Linked DNA regions of Homo sapiens: all the other regions are linked to region 2. The links come from fine-mapping of genetic effects on gene expression. A gene starts in region 2. Each other region holds a variant in brackets. All regions are shown on one strand. Distances are between the middles of the regions.

The links. PIP is the estimated chance that this variant, and not a neighbour inherited with it, causes the effect.
Region 1: its variant is fine-mapped to the expression of CMTM3 in whole blood (INTERVAL, PIP 0.94).
Region 3: its variant is fine-mapped to the expression of CMTM3 in whole blood (INTERVAL, PIP 0.91).
Region 4: its variant is fine-mapped to the expression of CMTM3 in whole blood (TwinsUK, PIP 0.95).

Annotation. Positions count from the first base shown.
Region 1 is chr16:66,432,565-66,440,667 of GRCh38, reverse strand. It overlaps BEAN1 (brain expressed associated with NEDD4 1), which reads right to left. Exons shown (of 5, transcript NM_001178020.3): 2 at 2,967-3,073. The coding sequence starts at 2,991. Among named protein-coding and RNA genes, the nearest start is that of BEAN1, 9.3 kb to the right of the region's middle. The variant G/AG (reference allele first, on the strand shown) is at 4,402.
Region 2 is chr16:66,600,922-66,609,013 of GRCh38, reverse strand. It overlaps CMTM3 (CKLF like MARVEL transmembrane domain containing 3), which reads right to left and starts at 4,310. Exons shown (of 5, transcript NM_181553.4): 1 at 4,062-4,310; 2 at 550-705. The coding sequence starts at 4,208. It also overlaps a transcript of CMTM4 not described here. RefSeq lists an enhancer at 1-14 and silencers at 3,306-3,525, 3,586-4,425.
Region 3 is chr16:67,552,543-67,560,636 of GRCh38, reverse strand. The region is part of intron 1 of LOC124903703 (a long non-coding RNA gene); the gene reads left to right. Among named protein-coding and RNA genes, the nearest start is that of CTCF-DT, 5.7 kb to the left of the region's middle. RefSeq lists enhancers at 7,440-7,939, 7,940-8,094. The variant TG/G (reference allele first, on the strand shown) is at 3,934.
Region 4 is chr16:66,682,890-66,690,992 of GRCh38, reverse strand. The region is part of intron 1 of CMTM4 (CKLF like MARVEL transmembrane domain containing 4); the gene reads left to right. Among named protein-coding and RNA genes, the nearest start is that of CMTM4, 9.8 kb to the left of the region's middle. The variant AG/G (reference allele first, on the strand shown) is at 3,854.

The DNA.
Region 1 (8,103 bases), 170 kb after region 2:
TGAGGCTGAGAAGGTCTGGGGCATGCACAGCGAGAAGGGCGGGGGCTGCACTGGAGCCCTGGGGGCCCAGCATCCCAGGGCAGGTGCAGGGAGAATCCCTGCTCTTCCACCACTGCCAAAGGAGACCACGAATGGAAGGTCAGATGGTCTGAGAGGCTGGCTGGAGGACACAGGGAGGACTCTGAGTCAGGGAACCCAAAGCAGGAGAAGTCATCACAAACAGAAGCACCCAGCAGGGGCCAGGCACTGTGGCTCACGCCTGTAATCCCAGCTCTTTGGGAGGCCAACGCAGGCAGATCACCTGAAGTCAGGAGTTCGAGACGAGCCTGGTCAAATGATGAAACCCTATCTCTATTAAAAACAAAAAAAACTTAGCCAGGTGTGGTGGTGGGCGCCTGTAGTCCCAGCTACTTGGGAGGCTGAGTCAGGAGAATCGCTTGAACCTGGGAGGCGGAGCCTGCAGTGAGCTGAGATCGTGCCACTGCACTCCAGCCTGGGTGGCAGCGTGAAACTCCATCTCAAAAAAAAAAAAAAAAAAAAAAAAGAAGTACCCAACAGGGTGAGACGCAGCTGAGAAATGGAAACCATGGAATGGTTTTAACTTCACAGAAGTTGATGGGATGTTGGGGTGCGGGTGCACAAGCCAGACTGGACCCAGACTGAAGCTGATTGTGGGTGCTGGAAGGGGACACCAGGTGCTTCTTGGACAAGTTCAGACTGGACAATGTGAGAAGAATTTGGCAGAGACAATGACAGAGTCTCCATGGAGCCTCGCAGCAGTCCTGAGCTCCTGGAATCCACTGGGCTTGGTGGACCCCTTTGTCTCAGAGATATGTCTGGGTCAAAGTCATGGAGGGATCTGGTGGCAGAGTCAGGGGCTTCAGCTTCTCCCTGACAATGGCCTCTAGCTCCTCCTCCAGGGTGTTTAATTATGTGTTTATTCACTCAACAAACATTGAGTGCCTACTGCATGCTAGGTATTGGGTCTTTGGGGAAGGGGGAATTTCAGAGATGTGCAGGAGCCACTTCTAAATGGCCTCGAATGTCAGTGACCACACCCTGGAGTCCTCAGGAGGTGGATATGCAGAGGGCTGCCCTGCAGGGATGGCCTCTGTTAGTGAGATGGACCCAGCTTCCAATGGCCTGGGGTTCAGCCCAAAAGGTTCTGGAAAGCCCTCCGCACTCAGCATCCCCAGCCTTGACTTTTCCCAGGCTTCTCCATGCTGGGCTGCTCCTGCCTGGCCAGAAGATAGGGCCAAGAACATGACCATCCCAGTGCTCTGCAGGGCAGGTGTCCCTGGGCTCTGGGGTGCCCTGAATAGCAGTCTCCTCTCCTGGCCTGGGACTCAGGCTTTCCTTTCCTGATCATGCCACAGCAACAGTGACAACAGCAACAATTTGTTGAGCCTGTGCTATCCATCACTACCCCTCCTCGGGTACCCAGAGCAGCCAGGCCGAGCTCCACCACCCTCTGGACACTACTCTTTGAACAATGAACCCCACAGCCAGCTCATCCCCCTGGCGTGCCTGGTGATGATCTCACCCAGGTGGGACATGCCAGTGTCCCCTACCTCCCACTGCAGCTGTCCCTTGATATCCAAATGATTTAACAATAAGGCTTCGACTTTTGGAAGAGAGGCCCCCACCCCCATGATCCACGTAAACAATGGCACAGATTGGAACAGACAATGGCGAGTTGGGGAGGCATTACCCACAGTGAGCAGGGGAGAGGGGAAAGTGTCCCCCTCTGAGGTTAGGGTCTCTGATTTCACAGACTCACAGTCCTGACTTATCAAGGAGAAGGGACAGGGCAGTCCTGCATGTCTCCCCAAATTATAGCGAGTGGTGGTGGTTTGGGGGGGGCTCAGGGAACATCATGGAAGAAAGCAGGTGGCTGCTGTGGGAGAAGTGAAAGGGGCCCTGGGGCAAGGGTGGTGGCATGAGTCAAGCGGGTGGAGACTAGGGGAGAAGTCGAGGGGGCTGCAGTCTTGGACATCAGGGGTACCCCTGGCTGATTCCATCACTTGGACTCAGGGGCCTCAGGGAGCCATGAGAAGACTGCCGACGGGCAAGATCATCTACAGGCTTCCGCGAATGAGGAACTTCATGGTGGGGATGCTCGGGATGGGTTTCCTTAGGAGAGTAAACCCCGAGAAGTGTGTTCTGGGGAACACCAATCCCATGAAACATTCTTTGTGGTTAATGTTTGAGAGGAGCAGTGGGTTTTCTCTTACCTATGGGAGCCTCACAACACACATCACCATGTTATTATTATTTGTTTTCTGAGACAGAGTTTCGCTCTGTCGCCCAGGCTGGAGTGCAATGGTGTGATCTCGGCTCACTGCAACCTCCGCCTCCCGGATTCAAGCAATTCTCCTGCCTCAGCTTCCTGAGTAGCTGGGATTACAGGCGCCCACCACCATGCCCAGCTAATGTTTGTATTTTTAGTAGAGACGGGGTTTCACCATGTTGGCCAGGCTGGTCTCGAACTCCTGACCTGAGGTATTCCATCTGTCTCGGCTTCCCAAAGGGCTGGGATTACAGGCATGAGCCACCACGCCGGCCACACATCACCATATTAAAAGCTCAGGAAAGTCTTGCAGGAGCAAAACTTTCTTAACATGACTCCCCCAGCATTTTTCCCACTTACTTGGCCATGTAGTCTTTTATTTGTGTGTGGGTGTGTGTCATCCCATTAACATCCCTCAGAGGAACTCCGATCCACACTTCGGGAAGGGCTGATACAGAAGAATGGGCCAAAGTGCGATTTTCAGTTCTCAGGGAGCATCTTGCAGACGTCAGGGGTCTTCCGTGTTGCCCTCTCCCCACCCAGCATGCCACATTAGCCTCTGGTTGGACCCCTGCAGTTCTTTGGCCAAACACCTCAAGCCGTTCTCTGCAGCTCGACTCCAAGCTCTGCCCTTGCCTGGCCCCAAGTGGTGGAAGGATGTGGGGAGGAAACTTACAGGGGCAGGGACGTTTGAAGGACATGTAATCCTTGGAGCAGAACAGCGGAGCCAGCCTGCCCACGGGCACAGCTCTGACTTCTCGCAGGGAAGGCCCCTCCACTCACCTGCGGAGACACAAACAGGCAGGTGTTGGGGGGCCCATGGCGCACCCACAGCCCCTGCAGGCTGGGCGCTCACATCTCCTGAGCTGTCAACCTCTGCGGGAGAGGATGGTCACTTCTTTGAGAGCACGTGCCTAGTCTGGGCAAGGGGCTGGGGGACCTCTGGGCTGTAGAATGGGGAGAGGGACACAGGGGTAGGGCAAGTGTGTGTTGGGGTCCCAGTGGTGGGGGGTGGTGGGGAGGAGATATCTCTCTTGGGTGGATCTTTGGGAATTAGGATCCCAGAGTTCTTCTGTCTCATGATGAAAATGTGAGATCCCACTGCTTCGGACAACTTCAACAGACCATGGCATCATGAGCCACTTGGAACTATCAGGGCTGGGAACACTGAGACCTGGAGAGGTGAGGGGCTAGTTCAAGCTCTCACAGCTGGCTTTTGAAGGGTGTTCATTGACACCTAGCCCAAACCATATTATTATTATTATTATTATTACCCCAACATAAATAAGAGGAGGATGCTCTTTTCATCCCCATTTTATAAACAAGGAAGTTGAGGCTCAGTGGTTATGCAGCTTGCCCAAGGGCACACAGCTTCTAACTACTGGCTGAGACTTGAGTCCAGATCAGTTTGACTCCAGAGCCCACACTGTCAGCCAGCACAATTCTTTAGAAGGCATCTGTATATTAAATTACCGATTCAGAAACAAAGGCCTACAGAATGAAAATGCTTCTTTCCCTCTCTCCCCGCCCCCCAGTATGAACCTGATGAACAAGTGGATGTCTAGAGCAGTGAGGGAGGGCCAGGTCACTTTGACTCCAATTTGCAATGGAGAAAACATTTTAAAAAGGTAACTCATGGCTGGGTGCAATGGCTCACACCTGTAATCCCAGTATTTCGGGAGGCTGTGATGGGAGGATTGCTTGAGTCCAGGAGGTCAAGGCTGCAGTGGGCCATGTTCACACCACTGCACTCCAGCTTGGGTGACAGAGTGAGACCCTCTCTTTAAAAAAAAAAAAAGGGGCTGGATGCAGTGGCTCACACCTGTAATCCCAGCACTTTGGGAGGCCGAGGCGGGCAGATCATAAGGTCAGGAGATCGAGACCATCCTGGCTAACACGGTGAAACCCCGTCTCTACTAAAAAAAAAAAAAAAATACAAAAAATTAGCCGGGCATGGTGGCAGGCGCCTGTAGTCCCAGCTACTCAGGAGGCTGAGGCAGGAGAATGGCGTCAACCTGGGAGGCGGAGCTTGCAGTGAGCCGAGATCATGCCACTGCACTCCAGCCTGGGTGACAGAGCGAGACTCTGTCTCAAAAAAAAAAAAAAAAAAA[G/AG]AAAAGAAAAAAAGTAGCCCATTCTCCCATGTTGCTGAAGATCTGAATTGGTTCATGTCTCCCAAGGGACATGAGGCTGTAGGAACAGGAGAGAGATAAGGTTTTTATTTCTAGGGAGTGTGGTCACTTGCCTTGCAGAAGCGAAACTGCACCTGTGGGCATTGGTGAGCAGAGATCATGAGTGCCAAGCCCTGTGGGCTTTTGCAGGGCATAGCTGGCAGCCCTAAAGCCAATGGGAAAAGAGTTTGCCCCTGCAGGGGTCATGAGGGGGTATATATCCCTCATCCCTAAAGCAAATTGAGGCTTGCCATCCCTGCTTGGGAGGGGCTAAGAAGAATATGAGGACACCAAGGCTCAGAGAGGCAAAACACTGCCAAGAATTGGCAGAGCTGGTATTAGCACTGAAGGATTAGACTTTTGAGCACAGACTCTCCAAAGACAGTTCTCTGATTCACGTTAAATAGAAAAACCAGTTATTTTGGCCAGGCGTGGTGGCTCATGCTTGTAATCCCAGCACTTTGGGAGGCCGAGGCAGGCGGATCATGAGGTCAGGAGATCGAGACCATCCTGGCTAACACAGTGAAACCCCATCTCTACTAAAAATACAAAAAATTATCCAGGTGTGGTGGCATGTGCCTGTGATCCCAGCTACTCGGGAGGCTGAGGCAGGAGAATCGCTTGAACCTGGGAGGTGGAGGTTGCAGTGAGCCGAGATCATGCCACTGCACTCCAGCCTGGGTGACAGAGTGAGACTTTATCTCAAAAAACAAAAACAAACCAGTTATTTCTCAGTGCACTTTGGCTGCATTTCCCTACAAGGAAGCCTTCTGGGCACTGGGGCCTCCAGCTGTGGCTCACATTCACCAAATACCTGCATGTGCCTAATGTCACCAATGGTATTGCAACAGACTTTTGAGGTGGGGGACATCATTTCCATTGTGCAGATGAGAGAACAGGCTCAGGGAAATAACCCATCCAAGGTCACAGAGAAGAGATGGAGGAAGAGCTGTGTGCAGAGGGACTCTCTCACCCCCAGTGCCTCTCAGTTACTGCCAGGGACACCCCCAGAGACCGGCTGCCCTGATGCTCTGGCTGGCCTGCTTCCTAGACACCCTGGGCTGATCATCCTTCTGGGCTGTTCCCTCTCCCTAGCATGCCATTCCTTCCACTTGGCAAACTCCTATGTAGCTGTCAATACCCAGATCAAGACACCTCTTCAGTGAGGTCCTCCTTGACTGGTGGAGACAGAATGATCACTCTGGCTGTGTTTCTGTCACACCTGGGTGCCCTTCCAGGACAACTCCGGATCTAAATTATTCTAGACCAGTAGCTCCTCGAGGGCATGGAGGGTCAGTGTGGCCTCTGCAAACTAGCTCAGGGTTGGGAACGGAGGGGAAGTTCAAAAGTGCATGGAAACACTAGAGCAAGCCAACCTCAGCCTGATGCAAGCGCACGACTGAGGGGTGGAGGCTGCCTTTCAAAGGTGCTTGGCTTGCTGAAGAGGAGGATCTCTATGCAAAAAGCTGAGATGCTTCCCAGGCATCTTGTCACCATTGGTGACCACGATGCCAACAGTAACCCGGGCTGCCACTCCCTGCCTCCTGCAATGCCATCAGCACTTTAAACACAGCCTCCCGCTGCAACCTCCTAGCACCCCAGGCTTGCATCCATTGATTCATTTCCCAAGCACCTACGCGGTGTCCCACAAAACCCTTGGAAAACACATGGAGGGACTTTGGGGGGTCCTAAAATAGGAGCTGGACTTTCAGCCTGGCTGCCTGTTTCCTTCTCCCTTCCCCCACTCCAGGATTTCTGCCGGAGGACCCAGAAGAAAACCACTCCCTGGTGGCATCAGACCCTCTGCTAGGGTAGAGCTTTGTCGGGGTCATCAAGACAAAGGAGCTGGGTGTGGGGGCTCCAGGTAAGCAAGTGCCCATCCTGGTGTCCCGCACGCATGTGACTGAAGTTGCTGAGAGGAGACAGCCATGAGGGGCACAGATGGGCTGGGACTGTGGTTCCTTTGCCAGGGGTCGGGGTCGGGGTTGGGGTCGGGGTCGGGGGCAGGCCCACCCCAGCTGCTAGGCCAAGCGTGGTCACCTCTTCCCCTGCCCGCCTCTCTTTGAGCCCAGCATGCGAGGCTCGCTCCTGCCAGTGACTCATCTCCTACTGGATTGTCTGGCTGGGAACTCGAGGGCGGGCTGGTGGCACTCCAGGCTTTGAAGTGGCTGAATGGTGTGTGGCAAGTCCACGTCATTCCCACTCCCCTTCATGTCCCCGCTCCGGGAATATCTCCACTCTGGGCTCTGCTGTGACACTCAGAGTTGGGCAGGGGAGCATGTGGCTAAGGGGAGAGAGCCTGGGTCTGCTGACGCGCCAGTGTCTGGGGATCCTCATGGCAGAGGCTTACAGAGCTGGAAGGCCCCAGGAGCGGCCAGCCTCACACCATGGGCGGCAGACAGAGATAGGCTGTGGGGGTGGGCTGGCCTTGTGAAAGAGGCCACAGGATGGCCACCTGTTTACACAGCCTCTGCTCAGTTGCTGCCACATGCTGTCAGCTTACTGGATCCTCAAAACAAATCCCCAATTCACAGATGACAACACTGTGACTCAGAAGAATAAGGGGCCCGATGAGGTGGTGAGCCCCTGCCCCAAGAGGGTTCCTAGGAGGATTTGAAGCAGGATTGCTCAGCTATTCTCTCTTTAGGAAGGTGGAGGGGGCGCCAGGTGAGGGAAACAGGAGGCAGGGAGCTTGGGAGGCCGTGGCCAGAGGTGATGGGGCCTAAACAAAGGCAACGGTGACTGCAGAGGAGGGGCAGAGGCTGCCATCACTGGTTCAAGTGTTTATTGAAAGTCTCGGCTGAGTGCAGTGGCTCACGCCTGTAATCCCAGCACTTTGAGAGGCCAAAGAGGGCGGATTACTTGGAGTTAGGAGTTAGGAGACCAGCCTGGCCAACATGGTGAAATCCTATCTCTACTAAAAATACAAAAAAATTAGCTGAGTGTGGTGGTGTGCGCCTGTAGTCCCAGCTACTCAGGAAGCTGAGGCAGGAGAATCACTTGAACCCGGGAGGTGGGGGTTGCAGTGAGCCAAGATTGCACTACTGCACTCCAGCCTGGGCAACAGAGGGAGACTCCATCTCAAAAATAATAAAAATAATAAAAATAAATAAATAAATAAAATAAAGTCCCTGATGCAGCAGGTTTTAGGTGCTGGGGACAGACTGGTGAGCCACACTTTGACAGTCCCTTTCTGACTAGGACTGGAGATGCAATGGTAATGGTGAAGTCTGCAAGCTAACAGTACAGGAAAAACAGAAGCAGTGTGTGCAGGTGGGAATTGCACTGTTAGATGGTTAGATACAGCGGCTGCAGAAAGCCTTGGTGAGAGGGTGCAGGTAAGCAGAGACTGGAGGAAGCAAGCTAGGTGGGCAGATACCTGGGGAGAGAGGATTCTGGGTACAGGTAGCAGAGAGGGCAAAAGACCCTGGGCGGGAACACCCTTGGTGGGTTTTAGGGACAGATGGATCTGATAGAGAGGGTGAGGAAGAAGGAGGAGTGTAAGGTGATTCCCTGTCTGCCTGGGTGACCGGCAGATGGTGGAGATGGGAGAGATGGTGACTCCAGGTCTTGATAGCTCAGACAATCACTGTGTCCCTGGCACTCAGCATGGTGCCTGGCACATAGGAAGTGCCCCGTGACTGC
Region 2 (8,092 bases):
ATGGGGACACAGAGGGTGCAGCCCTCCTGAGGCAGCAGATGCTGGATATGAAGTCAAGAGACAAGGGTTCAAGTTGAGCCTTTGCTGCCCTTTCTCTAGGACACATTTCATTCAGCGAGGTCCACTGGGGTCTGGGCCCTCACAGGTGATAAAACGAGGTCAGGGTTGCCGATGGCTGAAGTCTGGGTAAGCCCTGCAAGTCCTCAGTTAACCTGTCCTGCCCACGTGGAAATGGCTTGAATTCCTGTGGCGGCAGCTCATTCCTGTAGGCCCGGTGGGGAGCACCGGCGCCACCTGGTGGCCAGAGACCCCTCTCCGGGTTCCCTGCCTCACAGACCTGCTCTAGAGGCACCACAGCCCACTTGAGGTCACAGGGCTGCTGAGTAGTGGAGCTGGGATGATCTGAAGCTGGGTCTCTCCATCCAGTTCTAACCAACTGCAAACTCCAGCACACTAGAGAAAGGATAAGGGCCCAAGTGCACGACTCTGGACTCCTCATCTGGCCACTTTGTGCAGGGCACCCCTCCCTCCTGGGGCCCCTGTCCTCACCATCATGGGCCAGCACAAGCCCTGCCACTTGTCATTCAGCTGCATGGCATCAGCAAAGAGGAAGTACAAGGCCAGCAGGAACTCCAGCAGAGGCGCTGTGAGGAAGGCAGATGCTGAGGACGCCACATAGCAGATAAAAGTGATGAATGAGAGACCCTGCGGGGAAGGAGTTTGAGGTGAAGTCAGAGCCTTTTCATGTTCCTTGTCCAGTGCTCCTCTGAGCCAGGCCCTGTGGTCAGGATAGAGGAGGTTCCAGCAGGGGAAGCCAACTGCTCACAGTCCCGCAGCTGGGAAGTGGCAGAGCCAGATTAGAATCCCAGGCCAAGCACAGTGGCTCACACCTGTAATCCTAGCACTTTGAGAGGCCCAGGCAGGTGGATTGCTTGAGCCCAGAAATTTGACCCCAGCTTGGGCAACATGGCAAAACCTCATCTCGGCAAAATATACAAAAATTAGCCGGGCATGGTGGTGTGTGCCTGAAATCCCAGCTACTTGGGAGGCTGAGGTGGGAGGATCACCTGAGCCCGGGGAGGTCGAGGCTGCAGTGAGCTGTGATCAGGCCACTGCACTCCATCCTGGGTGAGAGAGAGAGAGACCCTGTCCGCACCCGCCCCTACAAAAAAAAAAAACCCAGCATGGCCCAGGCTCACACCTATGCTGCCTCCCAGTCCTGGGCATGGCCCTGAGTCCTCACCTTACCCCACCCCAGCTCCCTGACAGGACCTAGTCAGAAAGCCCCAGCCTTCCAAGCACATGCACTCCACTCAGTGCCCTGCGGAGGGAAATCAAAGCGAGGCAGGAACCAGTTTCCAAAAAGTAACACCCAACACCAAAGACGTGTGCTCGTCACTGAATGTAGATTTCACCTTGAAAAGAAAAAACCTTGAACCTTAATGATATGCGTCCTGAAGTGTTCAGAGTTGAAATGTCCTGATGTCTGCAATTTATTTTGTGTTAAAAGATAAAATGCCTTGATGGACAGATAGATAAAGCAAAAAAATCTTTTGGAGTTTTAATGTATTTGCAAATTTTCATAATGATAAGAAAGGAACATCTAACAGAGGGTGCGTTGGCACTGACACCTCAGGCCCTGCTGCCTTATTCATACAGGGCCAGCTGTGAAAGGTGGGGCCAGCTGTACTTGAACTACAAGAATCAAAATGTTCACTGTGGTCTTGCCCACAACTCTGTAGGTGGGAAGAGCTGATGCAGGAGGATGTTGAGCCCTGGGCAGTCCTGCAGCCCAGGTACGCTGCAGAGCAGGCCAAGGTGACCTGTTGGCCAGCCTGGGGCTCCACAGTGCCTGGTACCCTGAGGCTCACGGGCATCTCCTCTGACCCTCACATCCACCCATGAGCACAGCCCCACTTGACAGATGAGAAGACTCTGTCACATGGCTAATCAGAGGCTACTAGAATTTGAACCCAGGGCTGGCTGACCCCCCAGATAGAGTTATCTTACCTCCGCCCCAGAGATGGAGTCTTGCTCCGTCTCCCAGGCTGGAGTGCAGTGGCACGATCTCAGTTCACTGCAACCTCCACCTCCGGGGTTCAAGTGATTCTCCTGCCTCAGCCTTCCCGAGTAGCTGGGATTACAGGCGCCCGCCACCAAACCCAGCTAATTTTTTTATTTTTAGTAGAGACAGGGTTTCACCATGCTGGCCAGGCTGGTCTCGAATTCCTGACCTCAGGTGATCCACCCACCTCGGCCTCCTAAAGTGTTGGGATTACAGGCATGAGCCACCACGCCCGGCCCAGGTAGAGTTCTTAAGCAACTTGGCCCTGTGGGTGTTGGGGAGGCCATCTGTCCCTGGTTTCTGTCACTGTGGCTGCGTTTGAACATGTCTATGGCTGAGTAGTTTCTAGTGGGTGCAGGAGTCCCCATGGGGACACCCAGATGCCCCACAGGAAGCACTGTGGCTGCTTCAGACAAATGAACTGCAGGGATCCCAGGGGGTCCCCAGAGCACCCCCATTTGCTCTGCACATGGCCTTGGGTGCAGCTGAGCCCCCTTTGGAAAGATAGACTAAGGCATAGAGACGGGCTGGGAGGCTGCTGGGGCCTCCCAGGAAGGCCTTCCATGGGACTGACCCAGCTCTGGCCCTCCCCTTCCTGTCTCCTATGCCTGCACCCCAAAGCCTAATTCTGGGGATTCCCCTCTCAATTCCTGTTTTTTCATCCCGCGATTTCTGGGGCCACTTCCTCTCTCTGTTTCTGTCCATCTCAGCCTCTGCACTTGCTTGGCCTGGGGGTGGGAGTGAGGGGACTAGGGAGGCAGGAGTGCCCTCAGCGGCTCCTGTGAACCCTGAGTGCTGACCGTTCACCCTTCCTTATCCTCCCTGACCTGGATTCCTGACATCTGCTGGGCCCAGGGTGGCCTCTATGCTCCTGCTGGACATATGCCTCCCTCTTATGAGGTGGTCTTGGGTGGGGATGGGGGGGTTCAAGCCACTCTGGGGACGGTGGATTCGAGGCTTCTCCCCTCAAGTGGCTCCCAGTGGTCTCCAGGGTGGGGCTGGGAGTGTGGGCTCGGAGTGTGGCATTGGTGTCTCACTTGGGCGTTGGGCAGGTGGCCTCTGGGCTGACCGTGGGAGAGGCTGCAGGACCACCTTCTGCCCTCTGCCCTGAGTGACCAGGGAGAGGTCCCGGAGCAGAATCCCCCTTCCTCCTGCCCCCACCCTCCTGGCCGCTCTCACTGGGCCCCTCAGTTGAGCCACCTGTCAAATCAGGCGCCTGAGCGCTCTCATCTGTAAAGTGGGGACAAGGGCAGGAAGCGCCAAGTTCCTGGGATCTAAGCAACAAGTGGCCGCCGCCGTGCGCCGCTCTCTCCTCCCGCCTCCCCCGGTCTCCGGCCCGGCCTCTCCCTCCCCATCCCCAACGGCCCAGCGCCACCCCTACCCCACAGCGGACAGTGCGGGCGCCTCCGGTGTCCAGAGGACAAAGAAGCCCCACCGGCCGGGGTGGGGGCGAGGGCGGAGTAGGAAGGAGCCCGGCCGCGGAGGGGAGGAGGGCGATGAAGTCACCGCGGGGCCGCCTCACCCAGTCCCGGGGGTGGGGGATCCCTCCCGCTCCGCACGGCCCCCCGCCGGCTCGGCCCCGCAGGTCGAGGCCCCGGCCCGCACTACCCGCTCGCAGGAAAGCGGACCCCGCTGCGGCCCGGGAGTCCCGGAGGTCCGAGTTGCCCGAGTCCCCGGGGCCCAGAGAGGGCGGGGGCGCCTGGCTCACACAGCAGGACCCACATCCCCGGGCCCCACCCACTTCCCACGGCCCCCAGCTCTGGACTCGCGGGGACAGCGCCGCGGATGGCCTGGGCTCGGGCCCCGCCCCGCCGTCCAAAGTTTGGGGACCTCGACCCAACTTCGCCAGGCGCCCGAGAGAAGTCGGCCGAGGCGGCGCGGAGAGGGGGTATCGGAGCACGGCGGCCGCCCCCGGACCCCACCCGCGCCCCGACGTCCTCCTCCGAAAGGAGCCGCGCAGTCCTAGCGGGGCGGCCGAGGGTCCCGCCGCACTCACCGACTCGGCCAGCAGGAGGCGGCCTTTGAGAGAGCAGAGGAAAGCCCGCGCCGGCAGCAGGGCGCGGAGCCCGGGGACCGCGGGGCCGGGACGGGAGCCGCCGGCAGGCTCGGGGTCCGGGTCGGGGTCGGGGTCTGGGGGCCACATGGCGGCGGCGGCGGTAGGGCCGGGGCTCGGCCTGGCTCCCCTCTTCTCGCGCCCGGAGGGAAGCGGAAACCCGGGCTGTGCGGAAGGAGGGCAGGCGACACTGGCTCGCGCAGGGGCGCATCCCCCGCCGCCACGCCCCGCCCCGCCCCCACCCGCTCCTCCAGCCCGCCCCTCCCCCTCGGACCCCGGCTGCGGGGGATGCTGGGCCCGACCCGCCCCCTCCCCGGCCTGGGGCCTCCGCAGACTCCACCTTCTTCTTCACCCTGGTTCGGGCCGCTGGAGACCTCCCGATCACCGCCCCGGCACCCCTTCGGAGCTCCCACCCGTCTGCCCCTATCCAGAAGGGCTGTCTATACTCGCTGTCTCCGGTCTAACTTCCTGCCCGTGCGCGTGTCTGGGATCCGGGAACCCAGGCGTCTAAACAGCAAAGACCCCGGCCGTGATGTCGGCTCCGCAACCCATGCCCTCTCTTTTTCTTGGGGGCCGGAGTTTTCTTGCGACTTTCTTGGCCACCCCTCCTGTCCCCGGCCAGCCCCACCCTCCTCCAGGGCCTCTTTGTTGGCTGTTCCAGGCCTCGGTCCTGCACCCGCCTCCCCCAACCCATTCTCAGAGGACTCTCAGACCTGCAAGCGCAGCTCCAGGCACACACACAGACACACACACACGCGCGCGCGCGCGCAAACACACACAGGCACGCACATCTGCAGGACTTCCTGACCTGCAGTCCCCCCACCCCAACACATCTCTCTCTCTCACACACACACACACACACACTCCACACGCACATGCGTGCACATCTAGAGAGCGTCTGGAGTTCAGCGTGATCAAGACCCAGCTTCCTGTGCCTCTGCGAAGGGCACTGCCCCCTCCTTTCCTTCCACCTGACTAGCGGAGACCTGCGGGTTGTCCTTGTCCCTCTTCACCGGCAGTCTGTAACCAAGGTCCTCCCACTTTCACCTCCTATAACTTTCTCTGATCTCTGTCTACTTCTCACCACCACTAGATCCGAAACCATTCCTGCCTGCTCCCCGCTGAACTGCTGTGATGGTGTCTTTAAGAGGCCCTTAGGTTTTCTCTCTGGGCAGCCGGGGGAGAGCTTATGGCACAGTACTGCGCACCCTTGACATAACTAACTCCATCTTAGAAAAAGACTTCATTTTATATTTCATAGGGTGCTTTGCCAACAAGGGCAAGATGTTTTGTTTAATAAAAAATAGAAGGTCAGGCGCTGTGGCTCATGCCTGTAATCCCAGCACGTTGGGAGGCTGAGGTGGGTGGATCACGAGGTCAGGAGTTCGAGACCAGCCTGGCCAATATAGTGAAACCCCGTGTCTACTAAAAATACAAAAATTAGCTGGGCGTGGTGGCACCGTGCCTATAATCTCAGCTACTCAGGAGGCTGAGGCACAAGAATCGCTTGAACCCGGGAGGCATAGGTTGCAGTGAGCCAAAATCACACCACTGCACCCCAGCCTGGGCGACAGAGCAAGACTCTGTCTCAAAAAATAAAAAAAAAAATAAATAAAGACTGCGTCCAACCACATAAGGACACAAAGAAGCACACTGTTCCTCTACCATTTCTCACCAGAGCACTCTGTGACTACAAAACAGCAGCCCAGCAGCCTTAACTGACAACCATCCCACTGCCGTTCATAAGAACTCTGCATCTGCCTCCCAAGGCTCTGCCCCTCAAAGACTCTGCAAGACCCTCAAGCCCAGACCAGGATTCCTTTTGTCTTCTTCCTTACCCTGGAACTGGTTCCTTAACCCTTTCTCCTATCTCTTTTTCTCTTGATGTTAAATGCTACTTTGTTTGTTGTGGAATGTTTATAACATTTACATGTGGATTAAGTATACTATTATATATGGTTTGCAATATTGACTGACTTGTGGAGTGGCTTGAGCCCATGTGCTCACTACTGAGTGAACGGGAAGTACTAAGGAAAATTGGCTCCTTGGGTCTGGGTGCAGTGGCCCATGCCTATAATTCCAGCATTTTGGGAGGCTGAGGCAGGCAGATCACCTGAGGTCAGGAGTTCGAGACCAGCTTGGCCAACATGGCGAAAACCCATCTCCACTAAAAATACAAAAATTAGCTGGGCGTGGTGGCACAGGCCTGTAACCCCAGCTACTTGGGAGGGTGAGGCATGAGAATCACTTGAACCCAGAAGGCAGAGGTTGCAGTGAGCTGAGATCGCACCACTGCACTCCAGCTGCACTCCAGCCTGGGCGGCAGAGTGAGACTCTGTATGAAAGAAAAAAGAAGAAGAAGAAGAAGAAGCAAATTGGCTCCTTGGGATAGCTTGTGGCTTTTGTTTTTTTTTACCCTTGGGTATAGGGTGAATAAAAATCTGACACTGTGGAAAGACACAAACACGTGTGGACCTAGTTATCTCTTTTTTCTTTCTTGAGACAGAGGCTTGCTCTGTCACCCAGGCTGGAGTGCAGTGGCATGATCTTGGCTCACTGCAACCTCCACCTCCCAGATTCAAGGGATTCTCATGCCTCAGTCTCCCAAGTAGCTGGGATTACAGGCCTGTGCCACCACACCCAGCTAATTTTTGTATTTTTAGTAGAGACAGGGTTTTGCCATGTTGGCCAGGCTGGTCTTGAACTCCTGGCCTCCAACAATCTTCCCGCCTCGGCCTCCCAAAGGTTTGGGATTACAGGCGTGAGCCACCGCACCTGGCCAGACCTGATTATCTCTTGACCTTGTACCACTCATGACAATCACCAGTCATTGATCACTTTTGATGGCAGCCGTGGCTCCAGACAACCTGCTGCTATCATCACCCAGCTGCAGCAGGGAGGCATGGCCTGGGCTGCACACTCCATGGAGCAGGCAGGAGTCCTGCTCTCCCAGGTGCAGCTGCAGCTACCCAAACTGCAGCTGCAGAATGGGGCCTCCTCCATGGGGCAGACAGGAGCCCTGGGACCCCCTTTCCCACAGCTACAGCTGCCCAAACCACAGCTGCAGGCTCAGGCATCCCTGTACTCTTAGGGGCCCAGGAAGGCCCCCACCTGCCCTCCCAGGCTCGGAAGTGCCTTCTCCTGCTGCCTGGCTTCTTCCTGCTGTGGACACGTGCTCTGATCTGGGAGCAAAGTTGGGGCAAGCCTGGGCTTCATGAATGGCAGCAGGAGGCGGACAGATTCCTGGGTGGAAGGGGGCAAGTCCCATTGAGGCCCCACCTTTGGGCCAGGGAGGGCCTGAAGGCTGGGGGCCAGGCTGCCAGTCCGACCGACCAGAGTGGGAACTTGTACCTCCTTTTCTGACCCACCCATGGCTGCCCATAGATCAACTGGGCTCACACTTCCTCCACTCTGAGGCCCATAAAAGCCCCAGTCTCAGCCAGAGCTGAGCAGAGGTTGGGAGGACCAGGTACAGAGAGGAGCCACACTCTCCAGGGCCTCCTCTCTGCTGAGAGCTGAACACTCAACGGGATGACCTCCCTACAGAGAAGAGCTACCCACTGTCAGTCTCCTCTGAGCTTTCTAACACTCAGTAAACCTCCTTGTTGACTTGTTCTCCCTCCACTTGTCTGTGTACCTCATTCTTCCTGGATGCAAGACAAGAACTCTGGCAAAGGTGCCACTGGCCACAGAGGTTTCCAACCAGAAAATTAACACCCCAAAGATCCTGTAACACTTCCATCTCCTCCCCACAAAGATAAACACACACACACACACACACACACACAGACACACACACACACACACACACAAACCATGGGAGCTTCCCAACCTGCACAGGGTCTTAGTATAGAAGGAAAATATAACTCTTTGCTGTGCTTCCCTCCCCTGCCTCTCCCATGGACCTCTTACAGTTCCTGGAACAAACTATGGTCCCTCCTGCCACAGAGCCATTGTCCATGCTGACCCCTCTA
Region 3 (8,094 bases), 950 kb before region 2:
TTGGGCCACAGCACTCCAGCCTGGGCAACAAAGCGGGACTCCATCTCAAAAAATAATAATAAATAAAATAAAAGATGGTAGGGTTCCCAGAGCATGTTTATGTGCCATTGGGAGGGATATGGTGGGGAAGAAAGATGGGTGATCCAGGAGAGAGGAGGCTTGCTTGACCTATATAGGAGTGAAATCCATCAGAAGATATAAGGAAACAGGGAGGGTTGACCTTGGAGAGGAACAGGGATGCTTCCATTCATGATAAGGGCAACAAAGGTGAAGACAGATGCAAGTGCAGGGGAGAGGGAAGGCAAGTCCTTAACAGGATTGCCTTGGTGGCATTGGGTACTCATCTGAGGTTTGTGATCATGATGTTAAAGGTAAACCAGTTGGCCCAGTGTGTTGGTTTTTCTCCAACATTCAGCTGCTTGGGTACAGACATGAAGAAAAGGGATAGTACAGCTTCTCAACACCAGGACCCAATTTTTCTCATTTCTTTTTTTTTTTTTTGAGACGGAGTTTTGCTCTTATCGCCCAGGCTGGAGTGCAATGGTGTGATCTCAGCTCACCACAACCTCTGCCTCCTGGGTTCAAGCGATTCTCCTGCCTCAACCTCCTGAGTAGCTGGGATTACAGGCATGCGCTACCACCCCCGACTAATTTTGTATTTTTAGTAGAGATGGGGTTTCTCCATGTTGGTCAGGCTGGTCTTGAACTCCCAACCTCAGGTGATCCGCCCGCCTCGGCCTCCCAAAGTGCTGGGATTACAGGAGCGACTCACCGCGCCCGGCAAGTTTTCTCATGTCTAATCCCAGTTACTTACCTTATACAATTAGATACTATTTTAGAAATGTGTGAAGTATTTGAAAAATTTACACGTGACCCTTCTTTTTCTAGAAACCAAGTTATCCCATTTGCCTCTTATGTACACATTAGGACTCAGACATAAAGAAAAGACAAACTCAGAGGAAAATTACCAAACAGATGCTTCTGGAATATTTGCATTTTGCATTCTCCTCAGCCCAAATAGTTCCTGGTATACTTAAGAACTTATGTACTAGAAACAACAAAGCTGACATGCACATAGGGAGACCTTGTTTATACAAAAAATTTAAAAATTAGCTGAGTGTGGTGGCGTATGACTGTAGTCCCAGCTACTTGGGAGGCTGAGGTGGGAAGATCGCTTGAGCCCAGGAGGTCGAGACTACAGGGAGCCATGTGTGTGCCACTGTACTCCAGCCTGGGTGATGAAGCAAGACCCTGTCTCAAAAAAATAAAAAATAGGCCAGGCACAGTGGCTCATGCCTGTAATCCCAGCACTTTGGGAGGCCAAGGTAGGTGGATTACTTGAGCCCAGGAGTTTGAGACTAGCCTGGGTAACATGGCAAAAGCCCATCTCTACAAAAAATTAGCTGAACATGGTGGTGTGTACCTGTAGTCCCAGATACTTGGGAGGCTGAGGCAGGAGCATCACTTGAGCCCAGGAGGTTGAAGCTGCAGTGAACCCCGATTGCACCACTACATTCCAGCCTGAGTGACAGAGCAAGACATTGTCTCAAAAATAAAAAAAAAATTAAAAGCTGACTTGCATTTAAACTTTAGATTTTCTTTCTAGTAACATTAATAAGCTAATTAGTTCACTTTCTCAAGATTTTACTTCAAATCACCTTCCTTTTTTTTTGTTTTTTGTTTTCTTTTTGTGGAGATGAGGTCTCACTGTGTTGCCCAGGCTGGTCTCAGGCTCCAGCAATTCTCCTGTCTTGGCCTTCCAAAGTGCTGGGATGTAAGCCACCACACCTGTCCCCATCTTCTTTAAGAGTAGACTACAGGAACACCTTCTAAAGCTTTTATGTAGGCAAATATGAAGCAGTGGATTTATTTTTTTATTTTATTTTATTTTTAGATGTAATCTCACTCTGTCGCCCAGGCTGGAATGCAGTGGCTCGATCTCAGCTCGCTGCAACTTCTGCTTCCTGGGTTCAAGCAATTCTCCTGCCTCAGCCTCCCGAGTAGCTGGGACTACAGGTGTGCACTACCACTCCTGGCTAATTTTTTGTATTTTTAGTGGAGACGGGGTTTTGCCATGTTGGCCAGGCTGGTCTTGAACTCCTGATCTCAGGAGATCCGCCCACCTCAGCCTCCCAAAGTCTTGGGATTACAGATGTAAGCCACCACACCCAGCCTGAGGCAGTGGATTTAGAGGGAAAAAAGCCTCAATTATATTTATGATTATATTTACAACTATATATTAATTATATTTATAACTCTATGATCTCTGAGGCATCAAAAGCCAGGAATGGGGTCCAAGTGGCCTTGAAGCCTGCTTTCTGAAGACAAGGACCCTATGTACTGCTCTCACATAGGGCTGAGAAAATGCGAAGGATCACTAAGGAAGGAAGAAAAGAAAATATTTTCTGGCTGGGCGTAGTGGCTCACACCTGTAATCCCAGCACTGTGGGAGGCCGAGGCAGGCGGATTACCTGAGGTCAGGAGTTTGAGATCAGCCTGGCCAACATGGTGAAACCTCATCTCTACTGAAAATATAAAAATTAGCCAGGCGTGGTGGCACACCTGTAATCCCAGCTACTCGGGAGGCTGAGGCAGGAGAATTGCTTGAACCTGGGAGGTGGAGGTTGCAGTGAGCCGAGATTGCGCCACTGCACACCAGCCTGGGCGACAGAGCGAGACTTCATCTCAAAAATAAATAAACAAACAAAATATTTTCTTGTCTTTATGGTAAATCTTGATGTGTCCTACTTTATGGAGTCAGCTCCAAAGATGAAGGAACAGAAGGCCAAACAAAAGGAATAGAATGTTTGAGGCTGGAAAGAAACAAGCTGAGGGAAAATATGATGACAGGCTGTGAAACAGTTGAGGTGATAAAAATAAGGCTAGGCTGGGCACGGTGGCTCATGCCTGTAATCCCAGCACTTTCAGAGGCCGAGGTGGGCGGATCACTAGGTCAAGAGATTGAGACCATCCTGGCCAACATGGTGAAATCCCGTCTCTACTGAAAATACAGAAATTAGCTGGGTGTGGTGGCGTGTGCCTGTAATCCCAGCTACTCAGGAGGCTGAGGCAGGAGAATCGCTTGAACCTGGGAGGCGGAGGTTGCAGTGAGCAGAGATCGCACCACTCCACTCCAGCCTGGCGACAGAGTGAGACTCTGTCTCAAAAAAAAAAAAAAAAAAGATCTGGCCTTGAGCCTCACGTACAGGACCAGAAACCCAATGTGGTTTGTACCCTAAGAGCAGATTCCTTCCTCGGGGATTTGTCAGGCTCACAGGCGCTTGCTAGATAAGCAGAGTGCTGTTAACAACGGGCAAGTGGACCAGTGTCCTCGTGCTGGCAAAAGGCATATTGATCCCCTATAGGAGAGCATTCGGGGAAGCCAAATTACTAGAAATATTTGATGAGCAGTTAATTAGATTAACTAGTGTTAGTTATGTAACTTAAATGTTTAATGTCACCCTCTCTGGATGCTAGAATTAGATTGTTCGGGATTCAAGTCTAGTCTTGGTTTTTTATTAGCCGTGTGGTCTCTGTTGAATTCGTAACAACTCAACTATAGATTTCTCTTCTATAAAATGGGATGATAGGTTGGGCGTGGTGGCTCATGCCTGTAATCACAGCACTTTGGGAGGCCAAGGCAGGTGGATCACCTATGGTCAGGAGTTCAAGACCAAAAATACAAAAATTAGCCAGGTACGATAGTGGGTGCCTGTAATCCCAGCTACTCAGGAGGCTGAGGCGGGAGAACTGCTTGAATCTGGAAGGCAGGGGTTGCAGTGAGCCGAGATCGCGCCACTGCACTCCAGCCTGGGTGACAGAGGAGACTCTGTCTCAAAAAAATAAATAAATAAAATGGGATGATCATTGTGCTTGATACAGCCATAAGGATTAGACAAGAAATAAAGCAGCTTTTTTTTTTTTTTTTTTTTT[TG/G]AGACAGGGTCGCATTGTCCACTGTTGCCCAGGCTGGGGTGTGGAGTGCAGTGGCGAACTCTGCTCACTGCAACCTTTGCCTCAGCATTCTGAGTTGCTGGGACTATAGGCGAGTGCCAACACACCTGGCTAAGGTTTTTTGTTTTTTGTAGAGATGGGGGTCTTACTATGTTGCCCAGGCTGGTCTCGAACTCCTGGTGTGAAGCAATCCTCCTACCTCAGCCTCCCAAAGTGCTGGGATTACAGGCATGAGCCACTGCACCCAGCCAGAAATCATTATCCTATGATTCTCAGGAGAACAGTTGTATTTCCAAGATCTTCCTTGGCTCCTATTGTTACCCCTGTAAAGCTTGCAATAATTATGATCATTTACATGTTTTTTAAAAACTCTTTAATCAAGATAATCAACAAACGAAGGGGAGACATATTGATTTTCTAAGACATAATGAGCAGGGAATCTTCCTGCCCTCCTTGGGGTAAGGCCTAAAGTTACATGTGAACACTCTGGTTTTCTCTATACCTGTTGAGAACATGTGTGAGACATGATGCAGCTCATCAAGTAATTATTGAATACTTGGTGTGTGTAGCTTCCTGTTCTAGGCACTGGAGATTCAAAGATGACTCACGATGTGTTTCCTGCCCTTGGACTCAAAATTTAACTAGTAAAACTGGTTAAAACAAACACACAAAAAATTAATGCAATAACTGTTATAGTGGAAAGAAATGAGCTCACAGCTAAAGGAGTAAATCACTCCAGGAGTATCTCATTTCAGCTGGGTCTAAAGGATTAGCAAAGCATTAACAAGTGACACGAAGACATGTAAGGTGAAGAGCCATGATCAAAGGCATAAAAGTCTACAAGAGTATTTGGGGGACAGCGAGTCATCTTACACCATTGGATGAGGGTGTAGAGTAGTGATGCTAAACCTTTAAAGACATTTGGAAAGCTTTCATTGTCTGCCAACATCAACTGCCAAGCCTAACCACTTCTAACATTTAAATTTTTTTTTTCCCCAAGATGGAGTCTTGCTCTGTTGCCCAGCCTGGAGTGCAGTGGTGCAATCTTGGCTCATTGCAACCTCTGCCTCCCAGGTTTAAGCAATTCTCCTGCCTGAACCTCCCAAATTGCTGGGATTACAGACACGCACCACCATGCCCAGCTAATTTTTGTATTTTTAGTAGAGATGGGTTTCACCATGTTGGCCAGGCTGGTCTCAATCTCCTGACCTCACGATCTGCCTGCCTCGGCCTCCCAAAGTGCTGGGATTACAGGCATGAGCCACCAAGCCCGGCCTATTCTAACATTTTAAAGACTCATCCTTCCATATCATCTCCTGCCTAGACTGTAGGAGTTTTTTTCCTTATTAATGTCTGCTTTCTTCAGACCCCTGTGAAAGCCTTATTTATTTATTTATTTATTTATTTATTTATTTATTTATTTATTTATTTTGAGACGGAGTTTTGCTCTTGTTGCCCAGGCTGGAGTACAATGGCATGATTTTGGCTCACCACAACCTCCACCTCCCGGGTTCAAGCAATTCTCCCGCCTCAGCCTCCCAAGTAGCTGGGATTACAGGCATGCGCCACCATGCCCGGCTAATTTTGTATTTTTAGTAGAGACGGGGTTTCTCCATGTTAGTCAGGCTGATCTGGAATTCCCAACCTCATGTGATCTGCCCACCTCAGCCTCCCAAAGAGCTGGGATTACAGTCGTGAGCCACCACGCCGGCCTATTTATTTATTTATTTATTTTGAGGTGGAGTCTCGCTGTGTCGCTCAGGCTGGAGTGCAGTGGCGAGATCTCGACTCACTGCAGCTTCCGCCTCCCAGATTCAAGCAATTCTCCTGCCTCAGCCTCCTGAGTAGCTGGGACTACAGGTATGTGCCACCATGCCCAGCTAATGTTTTTGTATTTTTAGTAGAGATGGGGTTTCACCCTGTTAGCCAGGATGGTCTCGATCTCCTGACCTTGTGATCTGCCCGCCTCAGCCTCCCAAAGTGCTGGGGTTACCCCGGCCAGCCATATTTATTTTTTACCTCTCAGCTCAAATGACTGCTCTTAAAGGTATAAAGGACTGTTGCTAAACCTATATCCAATGTTTTAGAAGTTGATTTTGTTTTCTGTGCTGTTACTTACTTTTCCAAACATGCATGGATCACCCTTTATAATCCATCTCTATATTTTTCATTTTGCAAAACACCTTCATGTCTGCCTTTTCAAGTGATGCTCACAGCTCTATTTGATCAGCCAGGCAGTTTTGTCCTAAATTCAGAAATGAAGTGACTTGCTCAGGGTTGTCCGGCAACTTGTTGGCAAAATCAGAATGAGTACAGTAGTCTCCCCCTTGTTCACAGCTTCACTTTCTGCTATTTTCTGCTATTGGTTACACATGGTCAACTGCAGTCTGAAAATACTAAATGGAAACTTCCAGAAATCATGTTTCGAATTGCACACCATTCTGAGTAGAGTGGTGAAATCTCACAACATCCTGCTGCATACTGCCTGGAATGTGACTCGTTCCATTGTCCAGCATACCCATGCTGTATATACTACCCACCTATTAGCCACTTAGTAGCCATCTCAGTTATCAGATTGATAACACATACTATATATAGGATTCAGGACTATCCTTGATTTCAGACATCCACCAGAGAGCTTGGAACATATCCCCCATAAAAAATGGGGGACTGTAGGCTTGGTGTGATGGCAATCACGGCCTATAATCCCAGCACTTTGGGAGGCTAAGGTGGGTGGATCACGAGGTCAGGAGTTCGAGACCAGCCTGACCAACATGGTGAAACCCCGTCTCTACTAAAAATACAAAAATTAGCTGGTTGTGGTGGTGTGTGCCTGTCATCCCATCTACTCAGCAGGCTGAGGCAGGGGAATCACTTGAACCTGGGAGGTAGAGGTTGCAGTGAGCCAAGATTGCACCACTGCACTCCAGCCTGGGCGACAGAGCGAGACTCTGTCTCAGGAAAAAAAAAAAAAAAAAAGATGGGATCTCACTCTGTCACCCAGGCTGAAGTGCAATGGCGTAATCATAGCTCACTGCAGCCTTTAACTCCTGGGCTCAAGCAATCCTCCTGAGTCGCTAGGACTACAGGCACATGCCACCATGTCTGGCTAATTAAAAAAAAAAGAATTATTTATAGAGACAGGGTCTCACTATGTTGCCCAGGCTGGGAAGGGCTTTAATTGTGGAAACTTCAGGCTCTCAGGCAGACAGCAGAGGTATTTAGGTGATGACTTATTAATCTACAAGTATGTCCTGAATAACTGCTTAGGACCCAGGTCTATGTTCAAGGTTAGGTACTACCAGAGATAGATAGAGGATGTCCCTAGCCCTCGAGTGCCTTCTATTTCGTTTTATATTAGTGTGGAAATATCAGACTAAACCTTGAGTATTAGAAGGTAAAAGTCAAGGATGAAAAGGGAAGTGTAAAGGTATAGGCTACAGGTGTGGAAGGAATGGAGCGGAGCAGTCACTGGACATCACAGTAGTCATATGAAACCGCATGCTAAAGCGAGCATGACTTTCAAGCCTCTGCTTCTAGCCTTTACCCACTCTGGCCCAGGCTACTCTTGCTTCTTTTTTTTTTTTTTTTTTGAGATGGGGTCTCACTCTGTTGCCCAGGCTATCAGGCAGTGGTGCAGTCACAGCTCACGCAGCCCTAACCTCCCAGGCTCAAGTTATCCTCCTGCTTCAGCCTCCTCAGTAGCTGATGCTACAGGTGCACACCACCGTGCCCAGCTAATTTTTGTATTTTTTGTAGAGATGGGGTTTTGCCATGTTGCCTAGGCTGGTCTCAAACTCCTGAGCTCAAGCAATCCACCTGCTTCAGCCTCCCAAAGTGCTGGGATTATAAGCGTGAGCCACCAGGCCCAGACTCTTGCTTCTTCTAATGTAACTGCAGGCTCCTCCCTGCTTCCGGCCTCCTCCCTCTCACAGCTGCCAGAGTGACCTTCCCAAAGCACACACGTGATCACAAAACCCCCCTGCTTCAAGCCCACTGGTGGCTCCCCGGTACCCTGGGATAAATTCCAAACTCAGCCACTCCACAAGGCCTCCCATGCTCACCAAGCCCCTGCTCACCCCCTCAGCCTCATCTCTAACTGCCCCCTCTGGCCCCTGGGGATTCAGCTTGCTTGCTTCCTC
Region 4 (8,103 bases), 82 kb before region 2:
GGCATGTGCCACTATGCCCTGCTATTTTTTTTTTTATTTTTGTAGAGACGAGGTCTTGCTATGTTGCCTCAAACTAGAGGCTAATCTCGAACTCCTGAGCTCAAGCAATCCTGCTGTTTTGGTCTCCCAAAGTGCTGGGATTACAGGTGTGAGCCACTGCGCCTGGCCTGGAAATGTTTAAATGCAAATTTTAGCTCAGCTGATTTTGATGTCTCTTAATCTCATCGAATCTGGGTTCCTCAGTTGTACAGTATGGGTAGTAATGACTAATTGACCATTTTAGGAATTGTAAGAATTAAGAGGTTAATGTTTGATAGTTGCTTTCTTACGTAACTCAAAAACAAATGTGAGTATTTGCACTTCAGGGGTGGGTAATGGCATCTCTTTTATTTGGTGGAAACCTTGTTAGTTTTTTAAATCTCAAGCCAGTCAGCACAATCCCTGGCTGGTTACTGTTCTCTGGAGGATGTGCAGGGGTGGGGCAGTAATACATTATAGAAATCATATGCAACACAAATATAGCTACATTTACAAAGCTGCAACTTTGAGAAATGACTGGCTGTAGACATAGCACTGAGCTTATCAGCCCCAAATCCCCTCAGTTCTGTTGGAGGGGCTGGTTCAACTGAGGTTCAGCTGGGTTCCTGATTCGTAAGAGCTGGTCAAATGACCAGGCAGACACACAATGACCCTGGTCAAACCGTGAAGGGTTCTGCGTTTTGTTTACTACTGAAGATTCCTTTGTACTTCTGGCTCCCATTTATCCCTGAAGTCATGCATATACAAGCGCATAATGGTAGATGAAGCAGTGGGTTTCTCTATGTTGGATTCTCAGATCCACCATTCTGTGGCTCCTTGTAAAACAGTCCCATTTTCCTTTAGGAAGATTGTTATCTTTAGGAGTTGTCTTCCTGATCAAGGACTTGGAGTCAAATAAATTCTGGCAGAAAAGCAAAGTTATAATTACTCTTAAGTTTTTTTGATGATTAAAAATAGTGAAATTATAATCCACGATCTCAAAAGAAGTTGTTAAATGTAGAGCGTACATGTGTTTTACAAAACCACACAAAGACAGTTCAAGAAAATGATACTACAGACCAATATTCCTTATATGAACACAGACACAGAAATCCTCAACAAAATACCATATAGAAAATAAAACCCAGCATAATGGAGAAAGAATAATACACCAAACCAATTTGATTTATCCCAGGAACAAAAAGGTTGGTGCAGTTTTTGAAAGTAAATGTTATAGGTGTACACCATATTAATAACTTAAAATAACAGGCCAGGCACAGTGGCTTATGTCTGTAGTCCCAGCACTTTGGGAGGCCGAGGCAGGTGGATTGCTTGAGCCCAGGAGTTCAAGACCAGCCTGGGCAACATGGTGAATCCCCTTCTCTACAAAAAATACAAAAATTAGCATGACATGGTTGTGCATGCCTGTAGTCCCAGCTGTAGGCTAAGGTGGGAGAATTGCTTGAGCCCAGGAGGTCAAGGCTGCGGTGAGCCGCGATCGTGCCACTACACTCCAGCCTGGGCAACAGAGTGAGACCGTTTCTCAAAAACAAAACAAAACCCAAAGCCACATGATTCTATCATTTGATGCAGAAAAAAAAAACTTTTGACAAAATTCAGTACTTTTCCATAATAAATGCTGTCAGCAAACTTGGAAGAGAAAGGAACTTCTTCAACCTGAAAAAGGGCATCTACAAAAAATCTACAGCTAACATTATACTGTAATATATAATGTTACAGTGGGGAAAGAATGAATGCTTTCCCCCATGATGGGAAACAGGCAATGATGTTTACTGTTACCACTCATATTCAAGATCATACTGGAAGTCCTAGCCGTTGCAAAAAAATTAATAGGAGACGTACAGATCAGAAATAAATAAAACTGTCCCTATTCGCATATGGCATGATTAGGTAGATAATCACATGGGAATCTATAAAAAACCTCCTAGAACTAATAAGTGAGTTAGCAAGGTTACAGGATATAAGGTCAACACACGATAACCAATAGTATTTTTATATCCTAGCAATAAATCATTGGAAATTAAAACAAAAAAACCAATATCAGTTATAACAGCACTCAAAAGAATGAAATTCTTAGATATAAATCTCACAAAACATGTATAGAATCTGCTCACTGAAAACTACAAAACACTGAAGTAAGAAATCAAAGATGACCAAAATAAGTAGACAGGCATTCTGTGTTCATTAGGATTGGAAAACTCAATATAGTTAAAATATTAGTTCTCCACAAATGATCTATAGGTTTAATACGATCCCAAAATCCTAGCAAGGTTTTTTTGTAGATAGAAGAATGCTGATTCTAAACTTTATATTAGCCAGGCAAAGGGCTAGTGATGGTTTATGGAGGTATGTTCCAGGGAGAGAGAACAATGACATGAAGTCACCCTTGTTTAGGGTAGAATGTGTGTGTGTGTGTGTGTGTGTGTTGAGGGGAGTGTTTCTGAGAGTATGATGGACTTCGTATCTCTTATCGGCCATGAGACTTTTGGCAAGCTACTTGTTCACTCAGGCCACAAGCAGATCTCCTGCAGGTCTCTCACTTGGGGATTGTAAGTTGGGGATAATGGTAGTATTACAGTGCTGGTGAGCCCACCATGCTCCCTAGCTCAGCGTCTCAAGACACCACGTCATCAAAGCCTGTTGGAGGTTGCTATGGTCTGAATGTTGGCATTCCCCCAAAATTCAGATGTTGGAACCTAACACCCAGTGTGATAGTATTAAGAGGTGGAGCCTTTTGGGAAGTAATTAAGTCATGAGGGCTCAGCCCTCATGAATGGGATTAGTGCCCTTTTAAAAGAGTTTGAAGGGAGTGTCCTTGCTCATTCTGCCATGTGAGGACACATAGAAAGTGCCGTCTGTGAAGAATGGGCCCTCACTCAGATACTGAATCTGCTGGCACCTGGATCTTGGAGTTTCCAGCCTCCAGAACTATGAGCAATAAATTTCTATTTATAAATTACCCATTTTGGCCAGGCGCGGTGGCTTACACCTGTAATCCCAGCACTCTGGGAGGCCGAGGCGGGCAGATCACAAGGTCAGGAGATCAAGACCATCCTGGCTAACACGGTGAAACCCGGTCTCAATGAAAAATATAAAAAATTAGCCGGGTGTGGTGGCAGGCGCCTGTAGTCCCAGCTACTCAGGAGGCTGAGGCAGGAGAATAGCGTGAACCCAGGAGGCGGAGCTTGCAGTGAGCCAAGATTGCGCCACTGCACTCCAGCCTGGGCGACAGAGCGAGACTCCGTCTCAAAAAAAAAAAAAAAAAAAAAAATTACCCTTTTTACGGTATTTGGTTATAGCAACCAGAACAGACAACAGACTGATAGTGATACAGAATATCTCTGGAATGATACAAGTTGGGGAGCTGGGTGGCCGAGGGCCAGGGTGTCAGGGAGACATTTTCTGCTGTATAACTGTTTGTACCTTTTGTATTTTATTTTATTTTATTTTATTTTTGAGACGGTCTCGCTATGTTGCCTAGGCTGGCCACAAACTCCTGGGCTCAAGCGATCCTCTTGCCTTCAGCTCCCAAAGTCCAAGGTTTACAGGCATGAGCCACTGCTCCCAGCCCTTGAATTTTGTACCACATGCAAGTACCTTCTATTCAAAAATTACTAAAATAGTAGATGTTACTAGCTTTACCTTAGTATAGCCTTAAAGCTCATATACTGACTGTAATCTTTAACTTTTCATGACTTTCTTTGTAATTTGGAGGCCCTTGGGAAGAATGATTTAGATAATACAGACCACTTGGACAAACTTGAAGCTTAAATTGTTTTAAAATGCACTTTTCTGTAAAAAAAAAAAAAAAAAA[AG/G]CATTCTGCACAATAGTGGGTGCTTAATAAATTTGTTGATGCTAATGGAAAACTTCTTCCATTTGAAAGGAATTTACCCTCATTTGTTAGTGAAAATGTTGTAACATTAAAGAAAATTAGAAATTAGAAAAATAATCATCGTATTATGACAGACTCAAATGAAAAGGACTTGGAAATTTTTTCCTTTCCAAAGGCTACATATGATCCCCTGTGGCAAAGTCTGGTGATTATGTTTTCTAGTTTTTTTGCTATTAGGAAGATGCGTCAATAAATGTCCTCATGAGTGTAGCCTGGATTCTTCTTTTGAATTATTATTTTTGGTTAAATTTCAAGGAGTGCTTTTACTACATCAAAGGACAAGACCACCACATTTCTGAACATTTAAAAAAAAAATACAGACTTGGTTGACATTTCCTCCCAAAGCATATCTGAAGGTCTCAGTTTATTCCAGGTTTCTAGTATGCTTACCCACAAGTACAGACAACTGGGAAATGGTGACCTCTGTAAGTCCTAATGGCTCCTCCTGGACCACAGGGCTAAATTAATTCTTTCTCCACAACTTTGGAGGAACTTTTTTTTTTTTTTTTTTTTTGAGACAGAGTCTGACTGTCACCCAGGCTGGAGTGCAGTGGCGCAATCTTGGCTCACTGCAACCTCCACCTCCTGGGTTCAAGCAATTCTCCTGCCTCCGCCTCCTGAGTAGCTGGGATTACAGGCGCCTGGCTAATTTTTGTATTTTTTGTAGAGATAGGGTTTCCCATGTTGGCCAGGCTGGTCTCGAACTCCTGAGCTCAAGTGATGTGCTCATCTTGGCCTCCCAAAGTGCTGGGATTACTGGTGTGAGCCACTGTGCCTGGCTGGAACTTTGTTGTTTTTTTTTTTTTTGGAGACGGAATCTTGCTCTGTCACCAGGCTGGAGTGCAGTGGTGCGATCTCGGCTCACTGCAACCTCCACCTCCTGGATTCAAGGGACTCTCCTGCCTCAGACTCCCCGAGTAGCTGGGACTACAGGCGCGTGCCACCACGCCCAGCTAACTTTTGTATTTTTAGTAGAGACAGGGTTTCACCATGTTGGCCGGGATGGTCTTGATCTCTTGACCTCGTGATCCACCCGCCTTGGCCTCCCAAACTGCTGGGATTACAGGCATGAGCCACCATGCCCGGCTCCAGAACTTTGTTCTTAATTAGAAATCAGGCCAGGCGCAGTGGCTCATGCCTGTAATCCTAGCACTTTGAGAGGCCGAGGTGGACAGATTGCCTGAGCTCAGGAGTTCGAGACCAGCCTGGGTAACGTGGTGAAACAAGATCTCTACTAAAAATACAAAAAATTATCCGGGTGTGGTGGCCTATGCCTGTAGTCCCAGCAACTCAGGAGGCTGAGGCACGAGAATCGCTTGAACCTGGGAGGCGGAGGTTGCAGTGAGCCAAAATTGCACCACTGCACTCCAGCCTGGGCAATAGAGTGAGACCCTACCTCAAAAAACAAACAAAAAAGAAATCAGTAAGAATCTTTCCCAGGTTATGGCACTCCAAAGGATGCTTAGAGGTAAGGACAGGGCTGTGTGTCAGGATGCTTCTCTCTCGGTAGAATGAATGCATACCTGGGTGCCTGGGAGAGAGCTCTTTCCAGCCTAAAGTCGTGCTGTACAGACTTGAGCTGCACCACACGTGTGGCCTACCCCATTAAGGACTGAGGTATGTCTGGAAGCTGGGGTTGATTTTTTTTTTTCTTCCCCCACAGCAGTCTTCCCTGAGCCATTGAAATAGCCTGGAAATACCAGCATGGAGTTTTCAGCCTATAGCTGTTATCACTGACTCTCGCATCCTTGTTTCTGGAAGTAACCCCAAATGCTTTTGCAGGATGACATGGGATTCCTTTGGAAAATAAAGTTACTTATTAGAGAATAGAGCAGAAGGGATCACAGATAATAAATTTTCCCAGACAGTCTCAATTTCCTGTGCTGCCTCATCAGACCATATATAAGTATAATCCTAAATTTTAAATAATTATTTTACTATAAATTGTGAAGTATTCTAAGCATTGAAATTACAGCAATTCATGTGACAGTACCCGTGTGCTCACAATATACCCTGATATTTTTATTTGGAAAATAAGGTGATTCCTGGAGAACAGGCTGTGTGTACAAGAGAAGTAACATGCAGGGTGAGATGAGATGGGATTTGGGTTCATTAGCCTCAGGGCTCCAGGAAGGAGGAAGGATATAGACTGGGAGAGGTGGAGAGGAAGAGAGCAGGGAACCCCTGCTCAGGGGGATGGCTTCGGCCTGTCAGCTGACTTAAACTTTGACCTCAGTTTGAAGTGGTCCAGGGCTCTAGAGCAGGGCTGCAGCAGGCTGGAGAAGAGGCCAATAAGTAGAAGGGCTCAAGCTCAGAAAGTGACACCTCCTGGGGGAGAAGATACTGCTTGTTTAAGTATTTGGAAACTATCCTATTTTTAAACAGTTTAACTTCTTGATGGGGGAGGATTTTTGTGAAAAATTCTCAACTTAAAGCAGTGGGTTGGGGGGTGTTCAGGCTTCATTGCAGTGCCTCTCGTGTGTGGCCTTTTCTCGAGATGGGGGCTATCACTGGTTTTCAGAGTGGGGTCCTGGGATCACTAGAGTTTATTAAGGTAGTAATGGGGGATTGAGAGAAAGAGGGCTGAGGGGTGCAGTGGCTCATGCCTGTAATCCCAGCACTTTGGGAGGCTGAGGCAGGCAGATCACTTGAGGTCAGGAGTTTGAGACCAGCCTGGCCAACATAGTAAAACCCAGTCTCTACTAAAAATGCAAAAAAAATTAGCTAGGCTTGGTGGTGGGTACTTGTAATCCCAGCTACTCGGGAGGATGAGGCAGGAGAATTGCTTGAACCCCGGGAGGTGGAGGTTTCAGTAAGCCGAGATCATGCCACTGCTCTCCAGCCTGGGCGACAGAGGGAGATTCTGTCTCAAAAACGAAAAAAAGAGGGCCTGGGTACTAATTATATTTCAAACAGTCTATACTCTAAACCACAGTAAGCAGAATAAGGCAGATTTCTGCTTACATTAAGCAGAATGAGGTAAAATTTCTTACCTCTGGCTGGAATTTTATAATACCGATTACTTCAGGTTGATCAGGAGCTTTCAGTAAGCTTTTGATTAATATGCACCTGCCTTCGTCTTTGCACTCAGGGTTTATTCTCTCATCCCTCACTCTCTTCCTGAAAATGCCCGCTTAGCTATTTTTATTTTTTAAATTAGGCAGCCTCCTGCACCGGAATAGGCTCAGAGAGATTCCCACTTGGCTCTGTTCTTCTGGTTCCCGCTCAAAAGAGACCTTCCCTATCCCCCCACATCTGGAATAGAACACTCCCCCACCCCACTCTGCCTTACTATTGACCCCTGTCACCCTGCTTGATTCTCCTCCAGAGCATTGACCATCCAGCTGGAAGGTCAGCTCCATGAGAGCAAAGACTTGGCTTTCAAGTTCCCTGCTGTATCCCGTGTCTAAACCAGGGTCTGGCACATAGGTGTTGAATAGACAGTTGAATGTATGTGTTTGTTTAATAAAAGAAAAAAAATGGGCCGGGCGTGGTAGCTCCCAGCACTTTGGGAGACCGAGGCAGGCGGATCACGAGGTCAGGAGATCGAGACCATCCTGGCTAACATGGTGAAACCCTGTCTCTATTGCAAATACAAAAAATTAGCTGGCCGTGGTGGTGGGCGCCTGTAGTCCCAGCTGCTCGGGAGGCTGAGGCAGGAGAATGATGTGAACCCAGGAGGCGGAGCTTGCAGTGAGCCGAGATCACGCCACTGCACTCCAGCCTGGGTGACAGAGCAAGACTCCGTCTCAAAAAAAAAAAAAAAAAAAAAAAGAAAAGAAAAAAATGGGTTATTAATGTAGTTTGTAAGGTCAAGTTTTTGAAAACATGGAATCCATGGGGAAAATTTATATATATATATATATGTATATATATATACATATGTATATATATATATACGTATATATATATACATATATATATATATATACACACACACACACACACACAACTAGACTCTATTTGAGGTGGAAAATATTGGAGAGAAACTATGGAAATAAAATGCCATCGTAATTACTTTTTCTTTTTTTAACTTTAAGTAGACTATCTACTGCTACTAGGAAACAGAAGATTTTGCTTAGGAGACAGATTTTTGTAAAAGTTGGGGAAACCATAAGAGGCTTTGCCAATCTTTTTGCCTAGAAAAGTGTAAAATGAAAACCAGGATTCT